4 separate regions of the Homo sapiens genome follow, and regions 1, 3 and 4 are each linked to region 2. Evidence: fine-mapped expression QTL. A gene starts in region 2. Each other region holds a variant in brackets. All regions are shown on one strand. Distances are between the middles of the regions.

Evidence for each region.
Region 1: its variant is fine-mapped to the expression of FUCA1 in whole blood (INTERVAL, PIP above 0.99).
Region 3: its variant is fine-mapped to the expression of FUCA1 in whole blood (TOPMed, PIP above 0.99).
Region 4: its variant is fine-mapped to the expression of FUCA1 in whole blood (TOPMed, PIP above 0.99).

What each region holds. Positions count from the first base shown.
Region 1 is chr1:23,899,116-23,904,264 of GRCh38, reverse strand. All of the region lies in intron 1 of CNR2 (cannabinoid receptor 2), which reads left to right. It also overlaps the pseudogene BTBD6P1. Among named protein-coding and RNA genes, the nearest start is that of CNR2, 12 kb to the left of the region's middle. The variant G/A (reference allele first, on the strand shown) is at 2,821.
Region 2 is chr1:23,866,288-23,871,436 of GRCh38, reverse strand. It overlaps FUCA1 (alpha-L-fucosidase 1), which reads left to right and starts at 3,147. Exons shown (of 8, transcript NM_000147.5): 1 at 3,147-3,539. The coding sequence starts at 3,151. It overlaps CNR2 (cannabinoid receptor 2), which reads left to right. Exons shown (of 2, transcript NM_001841.3): 2 at 1-922. RefSeq lists a silencer at 3,516-3,735 and an enhancer at 4,986-5,149.
Region 3 is chr1:23,829,709-23,834,857 of GRCh38, reverse strand. All of the region lies in intron 1 of LOC105376861 (a long non-coding RNA gene), which reads left to right. Among named protein-coding and RNA genes, the nearest start is that of HMGCL, 6.9 kb to the right of the region's middle. The variant C/T (reference allele first, on the strand shown) is at 2,950.
Region 4 is chr1:23,842,392-23,847,540 of GRCh38, reverse strand. FUCA1 (alpha-L-fucosidase 1) reads left to right here. Exons shown (of 8, transcript NM_000147.5): 7 at 1,368-1,467; 8 at 1,686-2,464. The coding sequence ends at 1,826. Among named protein-coding and RNA genes, the nearest start is that of HMGCL, 20 kb to the right of the region's middle. The variant T/GT (reference allele first, on the strand shown) is at 2,541.

The DNA.
Region 1 (5,149 bases), 33 kb before region 2:
GGAAGCAGAGGTTGTAGTGAGCCGAGATCGCACCACTGCACTCCAGCCTGGGTGACAGAGCGAGACTCCAAAAAAAAAAAAAAAAACAATGAAACGAACAAAAAAACCAGAGTTCTGAGTGACATCACCTGGATCACAAAGGAGCTCCCTAGTGGGGCAAAGCTAAGATTCCTGTCTTCAGGCAGTGTGAACTCTGGAATCTGGTAAAGCAGAAAATCGGGAGCCCAAATGCAATTTTTTAACATTTCAAAGGGCCCCCCAGAAAGATTAGAGAGAAGTCCCCGGGAGAAAGCCGCAGGAGCCAGCTGAGCAACTAGGAGGCAGGCTCCTGTGACAGTTGCAGACCTGGGCACAGGTTTGGGTTCACATCGGGCTCTGCCCTTTTGTGCAACCTCAGACAAGTCACTGCATCTTTGCGCCTCCGTCTCCTTGTCTGCAAAACAGAGATGATGATAATAGGACCACCCTTCCTGACTTACTGTGAGGATTAATTGCATTTTACACAACTAGCTATTGTTAAAGTGAAGCTCCCCACAATCCCATTTTCACCCTTGCATTTATGGCCTGGCAGGTTAGGTTCTGCAAGGCTGTTTCACAGATACTATGAGGAGCACTTTTGATATGTTAACCTAGGCATGCCCTTCTTACTGACGCACGTTAAAAAGAAATGCTTTTTTTTTTTTTTTTGACAAAGCCTGGGGTCTCACTCTGTCACCCAGGCTGGAGTGCAGTGGCACATCACGGCTAGCTGTAGCTTCAACCACCTGGGCTCAAGTGGTCCTCCCACCTCAGCCTCCCAAGTGCCTGGGACCACAGGCATGAACCACTACCCCTGGCTAATTTTTTTTTATTTGTAGAGGCGGGGTCTTCCTATGTTGCCCAGGCTTGTCTTGAACTCCTGGGCCCAACCGCTCCTCCCACCTCAGCCTCCCAAATTGCTGGGATTACAGGTGTGAATCACTGCACCCGGCCTCACTTTGAAAATTAGAAAGCAGGTTACCCTCCTTGAGGATGCTGGCATGTGTCAGAGAGAATACCTCCAACCAATCCATTAAAAAGCAGTTATTGCTGCGGCCAGGCCTGGCCCGGCTGCGCTAGGCTAGGCTCTGGCAGGATCGCAGGGGCGGGGGTGGTAGGGGCACGGGTGGCAGCCCCGCGGGTCGCAGCGCCGCCGCCGCCGCCGCCCATGAATGGTGCTGCCCCTGGCCTGCCATCACCGCCGCGTCGCTCAGCGCCCGACCTCCCTGCTTTTGCTTGCAGAGCCGCTCCCGAGGCCCCGGCGCGGCGCGAGGGCGCGGGGCGGGGGTCCACAGGCTCCGAGGCTGCCCCCGACGCCCCGCCCTCGAGGATGGCGGCGGAGCTCTACGTCCCCGCCAGCGCCGCGGCCGCGGTCCTAGCCCACAGCAACGCCGGCGCCGCCGTGGGCAGGAAGGCCGGGCAGCGCAGCCTGCACCGCGCCCCCGCGCCCGCGCCCGCGCAGCCCACACTTGGCAACAACCACCCGGAGAGCCCCAAATGGCGCGGTCCCCCACGCTGCGCGAGAGGAACGCGCTCATGTTCAACAACGAGCTCGTGGCCGACGTGCACTTTGTCGTGGGACCCCCGGGGGCGACCAGGACGGTGCCCGCCCACAAGTACGTCCTGGCTGTCTGCAGCTCCGTCTTCTATGCCATGTTCTACTGGGACCTGGCGGAAGTCAAATCTGAAATTCACATTCCAGACGTGGAGCCCGCAGCCTTTCTGATCCTATTAAAGTACGTGTACAGTGATGAGATCGATCTGGAAGCGGATACGGTGCTGGCCACTCTGTAGGCTGCTAAGAAGTACATCGTCCCAGCATTGGCAAAAGCCTGCGTCAACTTTCTGGGGACAAGTCTGAAAGCCAAGAACGCCTGCGTCCTGCTGTCCCAGAGCCGGCTGTTTGAGGAGCCCGACCTGACCCAGCGCTGCTGGGAGGTCATCGACGCACAGGCCGAGATGGCCCTGCGGTCCCAAGGCTTCTGTGAGATGGACCGGCAGACGTTGGAGATCATTGTCACTCGGGAGGCCCTCAACACCAGGAGGCGGTGGTCTTCAAGGCCGTCCTGAACTGGGCCAAGGCAGAGTGCAAGAGGCAGGGGCTGCCAGTCACCCCACGAAACAAGAGGCATGTTTTGGGGCGAGCCCTCTATCTGATCCGAATTCCAACCATGACCCTAGAGGAGTTTGCCAACGGCGCTGCCCAGTCAGACATCCAGACATCCTGACTCTGGAGGAGACCCACACCATCTTCCTGTGGTACACGGCCACCAACAAGCCCCGCCTGGACTTCCCCCTGATCAAGAGGAAGGGCCTCACCCCGCAGAGGTGCCACCTATTCCAGTCTTCTGCCTACCGCAGCAACCAATGCCAGTACTGCGGGCGCTGCGACAGCATCCAGTTTGCAGTGGACAGAAGGGTATTTATTGCGGGGCTAGGCCTGTGTGGGTCCAGCTCTGGGAAGGCTGAGTACAGCGTGAAGATTGAGCTCAAGAGGCTTGGGGTAGTTCTGGCTCAGAATCTGACCAAATTCATGTCGGACAGATCCAGTAACACCTTCCCGGTCTGGTTTGAACACCCGGTCCAGGTTGAACAAGACACCTTCTACATGGCCAGTGCTGTTCTGGACGGCAGCAACCTCAGCTACTTTGGGCAGGAGGGGATGACGCAAGTGCAGTGCAGAAAGGTGGCCTTCCAGTTCCAGTGCTCCTCGGACAGCACCAACGGGACTGGGGTCCAGGGTGGGCAGATCCCTGAGCTCATCTTCTATGCCTGAGGTGCCCGGGGAGGCTGCAGCAGGTC[G/A]GCGAGTGGATGGAGGGGAAATCAGGACACTAACTGCTTCTTGACACCATGAAAGGCCACACTTAACCTTGTCTCTCTTTGGCATGTAGTCAACTGAAGCTTGATTCTGTGAAGTAGGCACCTTTTCCACACAGCCAGAGCTGGGGGATTGGAGTCTTAGGCATCTCTGGTACACTGGGGTGCACGTCTCAGGTGGAGGAAGATTTAGGGCACAAGACAGGCCCCAGATCCCCTCCCAATGGCACCCATGCCACCTGCTTTGAGGGGTTGCATGTTCCTGCCACCCTCTTGGATACTAAGTGGTTCCAAGCTTAACTGTAGACCTTCCCTTCAAATCTAAAATCGGCAAAAAGTCACTTAAAATAAGGGACTTCTGTAATAAAGGTTGCCTACAATTAAAAAAAGAAAGAGTTACTGAGCAGTGACCATGGGTGAGGCAGGTGCACTTAAGATACGGGAGTGAACAAAACAAATAATAAGCCTTAACTCCCTTGGAGCGACCATTCTAGTGTCCTATTACTCAAATCAGTCTCCCCCAGCATTCGAGGATCAGAGATTTTAAGGACAATTTGGTTGGTAGCTGGAAACGTGGCTCGGTAAAATGGTCCAAGGTGGGAAGGATAAAAATGAGATTAGGGAGGCCAGGCACGGTGGCACATGCCTGTAATCTCAGCACTTTGGGAGGCCAAGGCGGGCGGTTCACCTGAGGTTGGGAGTTCAAGACCAGCCTGATCAACATGGAGAAACCCCATTTCTACTAAAAATACAAACTTGGCCAGGCGTGGTGGCACATGCCTGTAATCCCAGCTACTTGGGAGGCTGAGGCAAGAGAATTGCTTGAACCTGGGAGGCGGAGGTTTCAGTGAGCCGAGATTGCACCATTGCACCCTAGCCTGGGCAACAAGAGTGAAACTGTCTCAAAAAAAAAAAAAAAAAAAAAGAGATCAGGGAAGAGATGGTTGCCCAGAAGTATAAGAGAGACCCCATGCCCCTCCGTCTATAAGCCTCTAGGGGTTCACCTTGCCTGCCGCCTAGACAGAGCCGATTCATCAAGACAGGAGAATTGCAATAGAGAAAGAGTAATTTATGCAGAGCTGGCTGTGCGGGAGACCGGAATTTTATTATTACTCAAATCAGTCTCCACCAGCATTCAAGGATCAGAGTTTTTAAGGACAGTTTGTTTGGTTGCGGGGAGCCAGTGAGCCAGGAGTGCTGATTGGCCAGGGATGAAATCACAGGGGGTCGAAGCTGTCCTCTTGCGCTGAGTCAGTTCCTGGGTGGGGGCCACAAGATCACATGAGCCAGTTTATGGATTTGGGTGGTGCCAGCTGATCCATCAAGTGCAGGGTCTGCAAAGTATCTCAAGCACTGATCGCAGGAGCAGTTTAGGGAGGGTCAGAATCTTGTAGCCTCCAGCTGCATGACTCCTAAACCTTCCTTCCTTTCTTTCTTTCTTTTCTTTCTTTCTTTCCTTTCTTTCTTTCTTTCCTTTCTTTCTCTTTCCTTTCTTTCTCTTTCTTTCTCTTTCTTTCTTTCTCTTTCTTTCTTTCTCTTTCTTTCTTTCTCTCTCTCTCTTTCCTTCCTTCCCTCTTTCTTTCTTTTCTTTCTTTTTTTTCTTTTCTTTCTTTCTTTCTGACAGAGACCCCTCTGTCGCCCAGGCTGGAGTGCAGTGACGCAATCTCAGCTCACTGCACCCTCCACCTTCCAGGTTCAAGTGATTCTTCTGCCTCCCCCTCTCGAGTAGCTGGTATTACAGCATGCACCACCACACCTGGCTAACTTTTGTATTTTTAGTGGAGGCGGAGTTTCAGCATGTTGGCCAGGCTGGTCTTACCTCCTGACCGCAAGTGATCCACCCGCCTCAGCCTCCCAAAGTGCTGGGATTACAGGCGTGAACTACCACACCAGACCCTAAACCATAATTTCTAATCTTGTGCCTAATATTAGTCCTACAAAGGCAATCTAGTCCCCAGCCAAGAAGGAGGTGTACTTTGGGAAAGGGCTGTTATTGTCTTAGTTTTAAACTAAGTTTCTCCCAAAGTTAGTTCAGCCCAGGAATGAACAAGGACACCTTGGAGGTTAGAAGCAAGATGGAGTCAGTTAAGTTAGATCTCTTTCACAGTCTCAGTCATAATTTTGCAAAGGTGGTTTCACATCTAGGCTGCCCAACTTCTGTGGTCAGGGTCTGGCACCAGATATATGAGTCTGAATTCTGACTCTGCCATTTACAAACTTTGTGACCTCGGCAAATCCAGTCTAGCTGAGCCTCTGGTTCCTCATAGATAAGATCGTGAAAATGAGACAGTCTATCTCCAAGGGCAGTTTGGAG
Region 2 (5,149 bases):
CAAACAAGTAGCATAAATGTTTAAAAGTGAATTTGCATGTTTATATACTGTCATTCCTTAAAGTTGAAGCATGCCTTTCTTTATTCATCGGTGGAATCCTTTCTCATTTTGGCAAAGAAAATGCCCAAGTGCCTGGCACAAACAAGCACTGAGTAAATACTTCTTGAATGAATAAAACTAGATTCTAAAAATCATTTGATCAAACGCAACTCCACACTTTCTACTTCTCTTCTTTTAGAACCACACTGTATTTCTGCTTTTTTTTTTTTTTTTTTTTTTTTTGACATAGAATCTCACTCTGTCACCCAGGTTGGAGTGCAGTGGCATGCAATCTTGGCTCACTGCAACCTCTGCCTCCTGGGTTCAAGCAGTTCTCCTGCCTTAGCCTCCCATGTAGCTGGGATTACAGGTACCCGCCACCATGCCCAGCTAATTTTTGTATTGTTAGTAGAGATGGAATTTCACCATATTGGCCAGGCTGGTCTTGAACTCCTGACTTCAAGTGATCCACCCACCTTAGCCTCCCAAAGTGCTAGGATTACAGGTGTGAGCCACCACTCCCAGCCCCTATGTCTGCTTTAAGTGGAGAAGCAGAGCTTATGAGGGAGGAGAACAAGGGTGCAAAAGGGACCTAGATATCACTGAGAACTGCCCTTGTTGTTTGGTTGAGGAAATGGGCCCAGACAGTGGACAAGACTTGCTCAGGGAGACAAACGAGATGGTGTCCAGTGCAACAAACCTAGGTTTCCTAACTTCCAGTTCTGTCCACTCTACATCAGTGCCTCTCACCTGTCCCTGCAGGTTCACATTTTGGTTATGTGGATAAGGAGAAATAAATTGAAGATCACAATGTCCCATTTTATCTTCCCCAAGACAAGCTCTGTAACATTAAAGACCACTATGCAAACCGATTACTAGAAAATGTGTGTGGATGGGTTCGGTTTTTTTCCTAAGGTGTTCATGCTTACTGTTTTGGGCAATATTTCAACATAATCTGGCAGAAAAAGAAACAGAAGATAAAGAAAATAGCTGTAGGCCGGGTGCAGTGGCTCATGCCTGTAATCCCAGCACTTTGGAAGGCTGAGGCTGGCGGATCACTTGAGGTCAGGAGTTCGAGACCAGCCTGGCCAACACGGCGAAACCCCATCTGTATTAAAAATACAAAAATTAGCCAGGCGTGGTGGCGTACCTGTAAACCCAGCTACTCGGGAGGCTGAGGCAGGAGAATGGCTTGAACCCAGGAGGTGGAGGTTGCAGTGAGCTGAGATTGCAGCACTGCATTCCAGCCTGGGCGACAGAGCAAGACTGCATCTCAAAAGAAAAGAAAAGAAAAAAGAAAAGAAAAGAAAAGAAAACAGCTGTGATTCAGCAATAGTCATTTTCTCTCCTTGTCACTGCCAGAGTGAGGAAGTGCTGGGTTCTGTCAACATAGGCTCTGACTTCTCATGAGGTGCAAGAAAGAAGCAGCATGAACAAAGGCATAGATTTTGCACCTGGAGACACGTATTCTAGTCCCACCTCTGACTCAAACTAGCTGCATGATCTTGGGCAGCCCCCCAGCCCTCTCTGGGCTTCAGTTCCCTCCTCGGTACAATGGGAAGGGTAGGGAAGAGGATGGTGCCTAGGATCTTCAAAGTCCCAACTCTGATGTGCTGCCATTCTCTCACTGGCATGTGGGAACTGAGTGTGCTACGTGGAGTCATGAGACTTCTTCTTCCTTTTCTTTTTCTTTTTTTTTTTTTTTTTTTTTGAGACCGAGTCTCACTCTGTCGCCCAGGCTGGAGTGCAGTGGTGCGATCTCGGCTCACTGTAACCTCCACCTCCCGAGTTCAAGCAATTCTCCTGCCTCAGCCTCCTGAGTAGCTGGGATTACAGGCGCACCCCATGCCCGGCTAATTTTTGTATTTTTAGTAGAGATGGGGTTTCACCATGTTGGCCAGGCTGGTCTCAAACTCCCGACCTCAGGTGATCTGCCCACCTCGGCCTCCCAAAGTGCTGGGATTACAGGCGTGAGCCACCTTGTCTGTTCAGAGACTTCTGACTTCCGTATTTCCCTCGCTAATGGCCTCACCTCCCGTTTGAGTATGTGCAGCATGTGCAAATTGCAGAGGAACTGGGGAACTTCCCTGCCAGGCAATCCTGGGTCCTCTTGGCTCTCCACTTCCTCCTTCCTTCCTTCCTTCCTCCTTCCTTCCTTCCTTCCTTCCTTTCTTTCTTCCTTGGTCTGGCTCTGTCGCCCAGGGGCTGGAGTGCAGTGGCGGTATCTCGGTACAAACTAAGCTATTTGAAATGCCTCGGAATTCCCAAAGAAAGCTCAGTAAATACCAGACAGATGAAACGGTCCTGCCCGCTCTCCCTCTTTCAGTACCCAGTTTTCTCTTTCCTCTCCTTTCATAACGTTTCTTCCCATCATCCCTCTACCTCCTTATTTCTGTCAGGGCTGTTAGATACCCTTCCGGTCTGTTATCTCCTCCTCCAGCCTTGTGCTACAGGACAACTCAAAAGCCCCCTATGGCTCCCAAGTGATCACTAAATAAAACTCGTGATCTCACTTCAGCCTACCCCTGCAGGATTGCTGCGGCAAAATGGACTACTCCCAGAGGCGTGATCACGGTTCGGTTCACTGCAGCCCAGACTTCCCGGGCTCAAGCGATCCCGAACCTCCCACCTCAGCCTCTCGAGTAGCTGGGACTCCAGACGTGCACCACTACGCCAGGCTCATTTTGTTTATTTTTTATAGAGACAGGCTAGTCTCCAACTTGTGGGCTCAGAGCGATCCTCCCGCCTCGACTTCCGAAAGTGTTAGGATTACAGGCGTGAGCCACTGCGTCCGGCTCAATGGACTCCTTCTTAAATGTGAGTTCTCCGCACACACTGGGCCTTGCTCACCTCCACGATTTAACCTCGCAGTTAAGTCCCTTTTCAAGGTTTTTATTCGTCCTTCAGCGAAGCGCTGTCAACGCCTCCCTGCGTCTTTCCCTTCTTGAGCACCAGAGGGCGCTCCTCCGACCCGAGGAGGAAGCGACTCGGGCCAACCTGTCCAGGTTGTCCCACCCCTTTTTCCTTCCGGGCCAATCGTTAGTCAGAGTGGGCGGAGCCGCCCGCGGGCACCTGCGCGTTAAGAGTGGGCCGCGTCGCTGAGGGGTAGCGATGCGGGCTCCGGGGATGAGGTCGCGGCCGGCGGGTCCCGCGCTGTTGCTGCTGCTGCTCTTCCTCGGAGCGGCCGAGTCGGTGCGTCGGGCCCAGCCTCCGCGCCGCTACACCCCAGACTGGCCGAGCCTGGATTCTCGGCCGCTGCCGGCCTGGTTCGACGAAGCCAAGTTCGGGGTGTTCATCCACTGGGGCGTGTTCTCGGTGCCCGCCTGGGGCAGCGAGTGGTTCTGGTGGCACTGGCAGGGCGAGGGGCGGCCGCAGTACCAGCGCTTCATGCGCGACAACTACCCGCCCGGCTTCAGCTACGCCGACTTCGGACCGCAGTTCACTGCGCGCTTCTTCCACCCGGAGGAGTGGGCCGACCTCTTCCAGGCCGCGGGCGCCAAGTGAGTGTGGTCCCGGGGAGCGGCGCCCCTTCCCGGCTCGGGCGGCAAACAGGAGGTGGGGCTGGGCGGCCAGCTGGGGCGCGCAGCTGCCGGTCGCCCCCATGACCCCGGGGCCCGCGTGTGGCCTCCTGCGGCCACAGGAGTGAGCCTGGCACACCTGATGAGGAGGAGGAGGTGCGTTTGACTGGGGACTGATAAATGAAGGTTCAGGGAGATGGCAGGCTGGGAAGCCCTGGGTATCTGCACCTGTGCACCGAGAGGGCTGAGTTAGGCCATACCTGATGTCCCTTTCAGATTGACAGCACTATCAGGACTCCAGGGTTTCAAATCAGTGGTGTGGAGCCTGGTTCTAATTCAACTGTGAACCTGGACATGTCACTTCAGCCTCCCTGCAGCCTCTTCTATGGTTGTAGAAAGGGGTTATATAAGGATACAACCCTTTGAGCCCTAATGTCTCTAAGAGGGAAAGAGAGGGGAGTTCTGGTGTGCAGTGTATTTGGGCAACAGTACAGATAGTCATTCGTTTGCTCCTCTCAATCCCTTTTACGTAGGAAGTGTCCAGGAAGGGTCTGACTCTCTCTGAGAACTGTTGGAACTTGGGGGTGGCTGGTTCAGAGAACAGAGTAGAGAGCGCTGGGGTGGGGATAAGGGGAGACCACGACCCATGAAGTTGTCAAGGCAGGGGCTTGTCCTGAAGGAGTGAGCCTTGAGAGCCCTGTATTGACAGATGTTAAGTCAGGGAGTGGTTACTATCAGCTTCTAGAAAGATTCATTCGGCTGCTGGGAGAGAAGTGGGTTGGAGAAGAGTAAAAATGGAGGCGGGGAGGTTTCCCCAGCCCCTGGCTTAGAGCAGTCTTCCATCCTTACCTTGGTTCCTCAGCCATCTTCCGGGTTTTCGTTTCTCTTGAACTTTGAATTCACTTGTACTAAAGAGAAGTTACAACTGGCATTTAGTGTTTGCCATTAAATGTATGGGAGTATAAGACTTGATTAAGCAGAGGAAGTGTTTGTCTCCTAGGGGCCTTAGGGATCCATAACTTACAAGTGAGAAAAATTAAAATCTGGGAGATAACCTCTTTCCATGCCTTTTATTTCATGGATGAGATGACTGGCCCAAAGAGAGGAAGGAATATAATGTCCTAGACTCCAGGTCTCATGACGTCAAGGTTGTTTCCACTGCACCAGGGTCTGCAAACTGGCCAGAGGGATTGGTCCTCTGCCAGTTTTTTAAGGCCCATGAGGTGAGAATGGTTTTTACATTTTTAAAGGGTTGTAAAATGTTTTAAAGAAGAATACACTACAGAGAGGAATGTGCTCCCACAGAGCCTAAAATACTATCTGGCCCTTCAAATCCTGGAGTTCCCTACTCTGGCCAATGATTGAACCATAAAGTGCATTACCTATTTTTGTGCCATAAAAGCAAATTAAATATTGAGTGATTTGGTTGTTATTTCAACACTTGCCTTTTCTCCCAGTTATTGGGTCTTTTGTCACCTCTATAATAAATGAGAGGCAATTTATGTAGGCTTGGTAAACCAAACAGCTTAGTTTTCTAGAAAGTTTTCTATTTTGTTGTTATTGTTGTTTTGAAACAGTTTTGCTCTGTAGCC
Region 3 (5,149 bases), 37 kb after region 2:
TGATCCTCTTTGTTGTAATATTTTCTTATTTTATTCAAATTTCTACCTTTTCAGGCCAGGTGCAGTGGTTCATGCCTGAAACCCAGCACTTCAGGAAGTTGAGGCAGGCAAATCGCTTGAGCCCAGGAGTTCATGGCGAAACCCCCTCCACAAAAAATACAAAAATTAGCTGGGTATGATGGTGTATGCCTGTAGTCCCAGCTACTCGAGAGGTTGAGACAGGAGGATCACTTGAGCCCATGAGGTTGAGGCTTCAGTGAGCTGTGATCAGACCACCACATTTTACTCTGGGCAACAGAGCAAGATGCTGTCTCAAAAAACAAACAAATTTCTGTCTTTTATTTTGTCTTTTATTTTACTTACTTTTTGTCTGTTGTTTTTCTCACACCTTTTTCTTTTCTTTTCTTTTTATTTATTTATTTATTTTTGAGATGGAGTCTTGCTCTGTCACCCAGGCTGGAGTGTAGCAGCATGATCTCGGCTCACTGCAACCTCTGCCTCCCAGGTTCAAACGATTCTCCTGCCTCAGACTCCCGAGTAGCTGTGACTACAGGCGTGTGCCAACATGCCCGGTTAATTTTTGTATTTTTAGTAGAGATAGGGTTTCACCATGTTGGCCAGGCCAGTCTCAAACTCCTGACCTCAGGTGATCTGTCTGCCTCGGCCTCCTAAAATGCTGGGATTACAGGCATGAGCCACTGCATCTGGCCTCACATCTTGAGTTAGAAACTTCATTCACTACTCTTCAACTACCTTTTCCAATACAAGCATTTGTCTTTTAATATATTTCCATTATCATTTAATTCTAAGTATATTGTAATTTCTTTTTTTTTTTTTTTTCCTTTGGAGATGGACTCTTGCTCTGTCACCCAGGCTGGAGTGCAGTGGTGTGATCTCGGCTCACCGCAACCTCCGCCTCCTGGGTTCAATTAATTCTCCTGCCTCAGCCTCTGTAGTAGCTGGGATTATGGACATCAGCCACCATGCCCAACTAATTTTTGTATTTTTAATAGAGACAGGGTTTTGCATGTTGGTCAGGCTGGTCTTGAATTCCTGACCTCAAGTGATCCACCCTTCTCAGCCTCCCAAAGTGCTGGGATTACAGGCAGGAGCCGCCACACCCGGCCTATTATAATTTCTTTCTTTTCTTTTCTTTTTTTTTTTTTTAGACCGAGTCTTGCTCTTCTTGCCCAGGCTGGAGTGCAATGGCACAATCTTGGCTCACTGCAACCTCTGCCTCCCAGGTTGAAGCTATTCTCCTGCCTCAGCCTCCCAAGTAGCTGGGATTACAGGCACCTGCCACCACGCCCAGCCAATTTTTTGTATTTTTAGTAGAGACAGGGTTTCACCATGTTGGCCAGGCTGGTCTCAAACTCCTGACTTCAGGAGATCCACCTGCCTCAGCCTCCCAAAGTGCTGAGATTACAGGTGTGAGCCACTGTGCCTGGCCTATAATTTCTATTTTGATTTTTTCTTTGACCCATGAGTTAGGGTTTTTTTCCCCATACTTTCCAAGCATAAAGTTATGTCTAACTTAATTGCTCTAACTTGAGTTTTCCATCAGAATTGTGTAAACTGAACCAATTGAGATGTCTATGGTGTTGGCTACTGTTTGTGCTGTTAATTGTCGGTCCTCTTCAATTAAGGCACAAACAAGATGAGTTTATTCCCCAAAAATTGATGTGTATGACCTGCTGCTGTGGGCTTCATTTTCAACATAATCTCATCTCTTCTTAAAATGAGTTATCCAGTTGGGTATGGTGGCTCATGCCTGCAATCCCAGCATTTTGGGATGCCAAGGTGAGAGGATCACTTGAGCCCAGGAGTTCAAGACCAGCCTTGGCAACATAGTAAGACCCTCATCTCTACAAAAAATACAAAACAAAAAATTTAGCTGGGTATGGTGGCATGTGCCTGTCATCCCAGCTACTTGAGAGGCTGAGGTGGGAGGATCACTTGAACCCAAAGGCTCAAGGCTGCAGTGAGCTATGATTGTGCCACTGCACTCCAGCCTGGGTGACAGAGAAAGACCCTGTCTCAAACACACACACACACACACACACACACACACACACACACACACTTATCCATTTGTCATTAATTATGGTTAATTAATAGGATATACATGTCACCAATTTTTTGAAATTTGCTTTATGGACCAGAATATCATAAACATTCATAAAAGTTGACACTGACTAAGTTCCACTACTGTAAAAAGTCTGCTATTGCTCTCACAGGATTTGCAGAAAGGCAGATGTTGGATTTAAACATTATTATTCCCACTTGCAGAAGAGATGTCATCTGCTTTTAAGGAAAAGCTATAAACAGAAATTTGCTGTTGTGCATTAGAAATGCAATCTGAGGCCAGGCGTGGTGGCTCATGCCTGTAATTTCAGCACTTTGGGAGGCCGAGGCGGGTGGATCACCTGAGGTCAGGAGTTTGAGACCACCAGCCTGACCAATATGGTGAAACCCCGTCTCTACAAAAATTAGCCAGGTGTGGTGGTGGGCACCTGTAGTCCCAGCTATTGGGGAGGCTGAGACAGGAGAATTTCTTGAACCCAGGAGGTGGTGGTTGCAGTGAGCCAAGATCACGCCACTGCATTCCTGCCTGGCGACAGAGCAAGACTCCGTCTCATTAAAAAAAAAAAAATTAAAAAGAAAAAAAAAAGTCCTGGGAAAAAAAACTATTACCATAAAATCTGAAGGTCTGAGAAAGGTGCACAGAATTGTGGTGAATCTTATTTACTACTGCGGTCTTAGCACCTAGCACCAACTTGTGCCTTAATCACAGCAGCCATCTCTTTTAGTAATTTGGAGAGAAAGGAAGAGGAAAGAGGGAATAGTGTTATCATGTAGCAAAGAAAGCATTCTCTAGAGTCAGATTTGGGTCTGAACTTACCTACCATACATGATCTTAGAAAAGTTATTTAATGTCTCTTAAGCCTC[C/T]GTTTCCTCATTTCTCAGATGGAAAGAGTAACATTTATGTTGCAGAGTCTGATTACTCATGAAAAGTTACTATATATCACAACCAATACAGAAAATATACTTAATAAATGGTAGGGGCTATTGTTAATAATTATTGTAAGCTTTGTAATTGAGGGTGGGTTACAATGCAAAAAAGGAAACATCTTGGTTAAAATAAGATTCCAACTAAGGGTGACCCTGAGCAAAGTCTGTAACAGTTGCTAGTGTTACTCTTTCAGTATTTACTTCATGCCACCAAATGTGCCTGGTATTGGAGACACCACATTCAACAACCAGTTAAAGTCTCTGCCCTTTAGTTTAGACATTTGCCTCAGAGCTGTGCTTGTAAGTTATTTACTTTTGAGAATTTGCCAACAAGGGCTTTTAGGGGGGCAAACAGAGGAAGGAGAGAAGCCTCGTGTCTGTGACAATTAGGAGTAGTAGGGACTGGGGAGCTGGCAAGGGTATGCCTTGCCTAAGTCTTTTTTTCTTGTGCAGTTACTTATTTTTTTTTATTGTTTAAAATATATATAGCATAAAGTTTACCATTTTAATTCAGTGCCATTAAGTACATTCACATTGTTATACAACCATCTCCACTATCCAGAACTCCTTCATATCCCAAACTGAAATTCTGTACCCATTAAACAATAACTCCCAATTTCTTTCCACTCCCAGCCCCCAATAACTACTATTCAACTTTCTTTCTCTATGAATTTGACTATAATAAAGTCCTCATTGTAATAGTTAGGATTCTCCAGAGAAACAAAACCAATAAAAGATGATATATAGGCCGGACCCAGTGGCTCACGCCTGTAATCCCAACACTTTTGGAGGCTGCTGGAGCACCTGAGGTTAGGAGTTCAAGACCAGCCTGGCCAACATGGTGAAACCCCGTCTCTATTAAAAAAAAATGCAAAAATTAGCCAGGCGTGTTGTTGGGTGCCTGTAGTCCCAGCTACTCGGTAGGCTGAGGCGGGAGAATCGCTTGACCCGTGGAGGTTGCAGTGAGCCAAGATCGCGCCACTGCACTCCAGCCTGGGCAACAAGAGCAAAACTCTATCTTAAAAAAAAAAAAAAAAAAGATATGTATATGTATGAAATATGATCTGCTGTCAGCAAGCTGGAGACCAAAAAAAGCCAGTGAGGTGTAGCTCCAGTTGAAGCCCAGGGGCCTGAGAATGAGAGGAACCAATGGTGTAGTGTAAGTCCCAGTCTGAATGTAGAAGAGAGAATTCTTCCTTCCCCACCTTTTTGTTCTATTCAGGCCTTCGAAGAATTGGATGATGCCCCCCACATTGAGGGAGTAATCTGCTTTACTCCCTTTACTGATTCAAATGCTAACCTCATTCAGAAATGCCCTCACAGACACACCCGGAAATAATGTGTAGTCAAATATTTGGATACCCTGTGGCCTAGTCAAGTTGACACATAAAATTAACCATCACACCCACATAAGTGGAATCATGAAATTTGCCCTTTTGTGTCTGGCTTAGCAGAATATTTTTAAGGTTTATCCATGTTGCAACATGTGTCAGAATTGTATATCTTTTCAAGAATGAGTAACTATTGTAGGTATACAATATAGCACATTTTGTTCATCCATTTATCTGTTAATGCACATGTGCGTTCTGTACGCCTTTTGGCCATCACAGATAATGTTACTATGAGCAACATTATTGCTCATTGTGTTAGACAGGGTTCTCCAGAGAAACAGAACCAATAGGAGAGTTTTTATATATATATATATATATATATATATATATATATATATATACACACACACACACATATGCATATATAATAAGTATATTATATATAAATATACTATATAAAAATATATAATTATAAATAAAATAAAATATAATATATTTATTATATAATTTGTTATATAATAATTTATAAGTATATATTATATATTAATATATTTAAAATTATATATGTAAATTTATATATACATAAAAGCTACTCAGGAGGCTGAGGTGGGAGGGTCACCTGAGCCCAGGGAGGTGGAGGCTGCAGTGAGCTGTGATTGCACCACTGCACTCCAGCCTAGGTGACACAGTAAGACCCTGTCTCAAAAAAAAAAAAAAAATTAGGCTGGGCGCGGTGGCTCACACCTGTAATCCCAGCACTTTGGGAGGCCAAGGTGGATGGATCACTTGAGGTCAGCAGTTCGAGA
Region 4 (5,149 bases), 24 kb after region 2:
ATTACCTTATATGATCCTAATTACTTCCCAAAGGCCTCACCTCTAAATACTATACCATCGACATATGAATTTGGGGATTAAGTTTCCATCATGAGATTTGGGAGATGCATTCAAACCATAGTAGTGATTTTCATCCTCTTCTCTAAACATAGTGAAATTTCAGAACAGGCTGGGTGCAGTCTCAGAAAAAAAAAAAAAGAAATCTCTGAACAACAAATTTGTTTTCATTGCATGTCTTGTCCTTGTTATAGTCTCTGCTATTTTCACATGGATTTGGAATAGAAAAGAGATTTGAATAATAAGGTAAATGGCTCTATTTATTTGCAGTAACTGATGTAGGAGATAATTTTTAAAGACAACTTAACCCAATTGGTAGGGAAAATAGATAGTATCACCAGATAGAGTTTTATAGACTGCCTCCTTCCTGCACACCTTCATTGGTATTGAGTTATTGGTGCTCCCTAGTAACAGTGACAGACTCGAGGACTGGGATTTGGTAGATAATTGAAAGGGGAATGAGTGGCCTTGTGCAGTGCTTCATGCCTGTAATCCCAGCACTTTCTAAGGCCAAGGTGGGAGGATCACTTGAGCCCAGCACAACACAGCAAGTTGTGTTGGGCAACACAGCAAGACTCCATCACTTAAAAAAAAAGAAATTAGGCCCAAAACAGTGACTCACGCCTGTAATCCGAACACTTTGGGAGGCCGAGGCGGGTGGATCACCTGAGGTCAGGAGTTCAAGACCAGTCTGGCCAACATGGCGAAACCCCGTCTTTACTAAAAATACAAAAATTAGCAGGGTATGGTGGCAGGCACCTGTAATCCCAGTTACTCAGGAGCCTGAGGCAGGAGAATTGCTTGAACCTGGGAAGTGGAGGTTGTAGTGAGCCAAGATCACGCCACTGCACTCCATCCTGGACAACAAGAGCCTGGACAACAAGGCTTCGTCTCAAAAAAAAAATAAATAAGGAGCTGAGTGCAATGGCTCATACTTGTAATCCCAGCACTTTGGGAGGCCAATGCAGGTGGATCACTTGAGGCCAGGAGTTCAAGACCAGCCTGGTCAACATAGCAAAATGCCATCTCTACTAAAAATACAAAAGTTAGCCAGGCGTGGTGGTGCACACCTGTAATCCAGTGACTCAGGAGGCTGAACCACAAGAATTGCTTGAACCCAGGAGGCGGAGGTTACAGTGAGCCAACATCACACCATTGCACTCCAGCCTGGGCAACAGAGGGAGACTCTGTCTCAAAAAAAAAAAAAAGAAAAGAAAAGAAAATTAACATTAAAAAGGAGGAAATGTATAAAGTTGTATATCAGGATAACAAGTCAGGTATCTTTGACAGTGTTGTTTCTGTTTTCCCAGGTATACCTCAAAGGGATCGGCTGTTTATGCCATTTTTCTGCACTGGCCAGAAAATGGAGTCTTAAACCTTGAATCCCCCATAACTACCTCAACTACAAAGGTAAAGAGGCTTAGTCAGTCTTAAGATGTAACTTTCTGTAAAGGAATTGGCAGATCCTTCCTTTCTTCCTTCCCTGCCAGGTTTCTCCCATATTCACACCTCTTTTAGACTGGCTTTCCTGCCCTGGCCCAGCGTGGCTGTTTCCTACCATAGTCAGCCTGTATTCTATACTCATTAGTGCATTACCAGTTTGTTTCATTCCCTTTTGTTTTCTGCAGATAACAATGCTGGGAATTCAAGGAGATCTGAAGTGGTCCACAGATCCAGATAAAGGTCTCTTCATCTCTCTACCCCAGTTGCCACCCTCTGCTGTCCCCGCAGAGTTTGCTTGGACTATAAAGCTGACAGGAGTGAAGTAATCATTTGAGTGCAAGAAGAAAGAGGCGCTGCTCACTGTTTTCCTGCTTCAGTTTTTCTCTTATAGTACCATCACTATAATCAACGAACTTCTCTTCTCCACCCAGAGATGGCTTTTCCAACACATTTTAATTAAAGGAACTGAGTACATTACCCTGATGTCTAAATGGACCAAAGATCTGAGATCCATTGTGATTATATCTGTATCAGGTCAGCAGAAGAAGGAACTGAGCAGTTGAACTCTGAGTTCATCAATTGTAATATTTGGAAATTATCTACAATGGAATCTTCCCTCTGTTCTCTGATAACCTACTTGCTTACTCAATGCCTTTAAGCCAAGTCACCCTGTTGCCTATGGGAGGAGGTGGAAGGATTTGGCAAGCTCAACCACATGCTATTTAGTTAGCATCAGTTGTCACCAACAGTCTTTCTGCAAAGGGCAGGAGAGCTTTGGGGGAAAGGAAAAGGCTTACCAGGCTGCTATGGTCAACTCTTCAGAAATTTTCAGAGCAATCTAAAAGCGCCAAAATTCGCTATGTTTACAGTGATACTATTAAGAAAATGAATGTGATTCTGCTCTGTCTTTTTAAGTATGATCAAATAAAAAATTTGTACATCACAATCATTTCTACCAAAAAAACATGGTATAGCTTTCTTTTCCTAGTTTCAACTTATACTGCTTATAGCTTTAAGATCAGTTTCTGGTTTGTGTGTGT[T/GT]TTTTTTTTAAGGAGATTTGCAAAATCTCCTTAACACTGAACAAAAAATGTAATTCCTGTGTTTTTTCTGCTTCTCACTTCTAATACCATTCTTCTGAATTGACTACCAGTTCAGCCTCTTTGTTAGAGATCTAATCAAGTTTTCTATTTAATTTTTCCTTAATAGATATGTTTAGAAATCTTGTTTTGTTTTGTTTTGAGGCAGAGTCTTGCTCTGTTGCCCAGGCTGGAGTACAGTGGTGTGATCTCGGCTCACTGCAACCTTCACCTCCCAGGTTCAAGTGATCCTTCCTCCTCAGCCTCCCAAGTAGCTGGGACTATAGGCACACCACGATGCCCAGCTAATTTTTTTTTTTTTTTTTTTTTTGTAGAGACGGGGTTTCACCATGTTGCCCAGGCTAGTCTCGAACTCCTGGGCTCAAGTGATCCACCTACCTCACAGCCTTCCAGAGTGCTGGGATTACAGGTGTGAGCCACCACACCCAGCCAAGTAGATATATTTAGAAATCTTTATCCAACATTTAAGGAATATGTGTTTTTCTCAAGCACATATGGAACATTTGCAAATCTCAAATACCAAAGAAGCAACATCATATAAGCTATTTAGTGTCTACAATATAATTAAAGAACAATAACAAAAACTTGGAGAAGAAAAAACTGTGTTTGTAAAAGTTAAAATACACTAACTCATTATGTTACTGATTCATAAATTTATGGATTGTGCCATGAGATATAAAGAATTCCAAATATGTAGTTCTTGTGAGGCAAATGAAGCCTGGTTGTGAAAGAAAAAAGTAACACATTAGTGTAAGTAGATTAGCACAGCCAATTTTAATTAGATCACTTTCTGCCCAGAATTAGAGAGCAAGCTGATGATAATAATATTGCTTATATGGTTCTTCACAGTCTTAAAGCAACTTCATGCACACTTCTAAAAAAAAAAGAAAAGAAAATACTTGGAATGATAGTAACACTATATATTGAACCTTATAAGATGTAGCTTTAAAAATAAAAGTACTTCAGGAAAATATAGCGTTAAATGTTTATGTTAAAAAGAAGGCTGGAAAGAAGTAATGAAGGCCAGGTACAGTGGCTCACGCCTGTAATCCTAACACTTTGGGAAGGAGAGGCGGGTGGATTTCTTGAGTCCAGGAGTTCCAGACCAGCCTGGGCAACATAGCAAGACCCCATCTCTACAGAAAATACAAAAAGTAACCAGGCGTGGTGGTGCACACCTGTAGTCTCAGCTATTTGGAAGGCTTAGGTGGGAGGATTGCTTGAGCCTGGGAGGTCGAGGCTGCAGTGAGCTGAGATGGATCACACCACTAGACTCCAGCCTGGGTGACAGATCAAAACCCCGTCTCTAAATAATAAAATTTAAAAAGCAAAGGAAGTAAAGGGATGTAAGGAGCAGCAAGGATTAAACCAAACTGTCATTGTTCTCAGGTGATGAAACTGTCCACATAGAAAACCTCAAATAATATACAAATGAATTATTAGAATTAATAAGTTGTTGGATCAGAGACAAAAATCAATTACATTTCTACAGTCCAGAAACTAGAATACAATGAAAATATTCCATTTATCATAACCAAAGATATAAGTAACTAAAATGAAATTAGCAAGAGTTGTGCAAGAAGCACCAAACCATTGCAGCTCCAATGGCCCCAAGTTTCCAGCTTCCATTTCCCAAAGGAAGGGGATGCAAGGGTGACAAGATGGTGCCAGGCAGCCTCTCTCAGACCTTTTGGAGTTTTCTTGACCCAGCCTTGCTGACTTTGTAGAATGTGTTGAGCAAATCCTGTTGGGTGAATCCATGAAAAATTCCAACTCCTGGTGGCAAAATCGCAAAATTCCAGCCCTAGAAATGTTCTCAGATTTTTTTTTTAAGACAGAGTCATGCAGTGGCATGATCTTGACTTACTGCAACCTCCACCTCCCAGGTTCAAGGGATTCACCTGCCACAGCCTCCCGAGTAGCTGGGATTACAGGCACGTGTATTTTTAGTAGAGACGGGGTTTCACCACGTTGCCAGGCTGATCTCGAACTCCTGACCTCAAGTGATCTGCCCGCCTCAGCCTCCCAAAGTGCTAGGATTACAGGTGTGAGCCACTGCGCCTGGCCAAAATGTTCTCAGCTCTTAAATCTTCTAGAAGACACCAAATGTCTGGAGTGGTTTACGGCATGAATCCAGGATCATTTTTATCAAGAGGAGTAGAAGAACCAAGTCCTCAAAAATTTAATTCCAAAGTATGGCCCCAACACTATGTCTTCAATACGTCCAATGTTTCAAGTGTACCCGTGCTCTTGGGCATTATTCAATGATGGCAGCTAAGAAAACTGACAGCCCAACTCCTTTCAAAATCAAGCCCCCAATGTGTCCCCAACAATAATTCAATATTGTATCCAATGTCATTTTTTTTTTTTGAGATGGAGTTTCACTCTTGTTGCCCAGGCTGGATTGCAATGGTTTGATCTTGGCTCACTGCAGCCTCTGCCTCCTGGGTTCAAGTGATTTTCCTGCCTCAGCCTCCCGAGTGGCTGGGATTACAGGCACCCACCACCACACCCGGCTAATTTTTTTGTGTTTTTAGACAAGACAGGGTTTC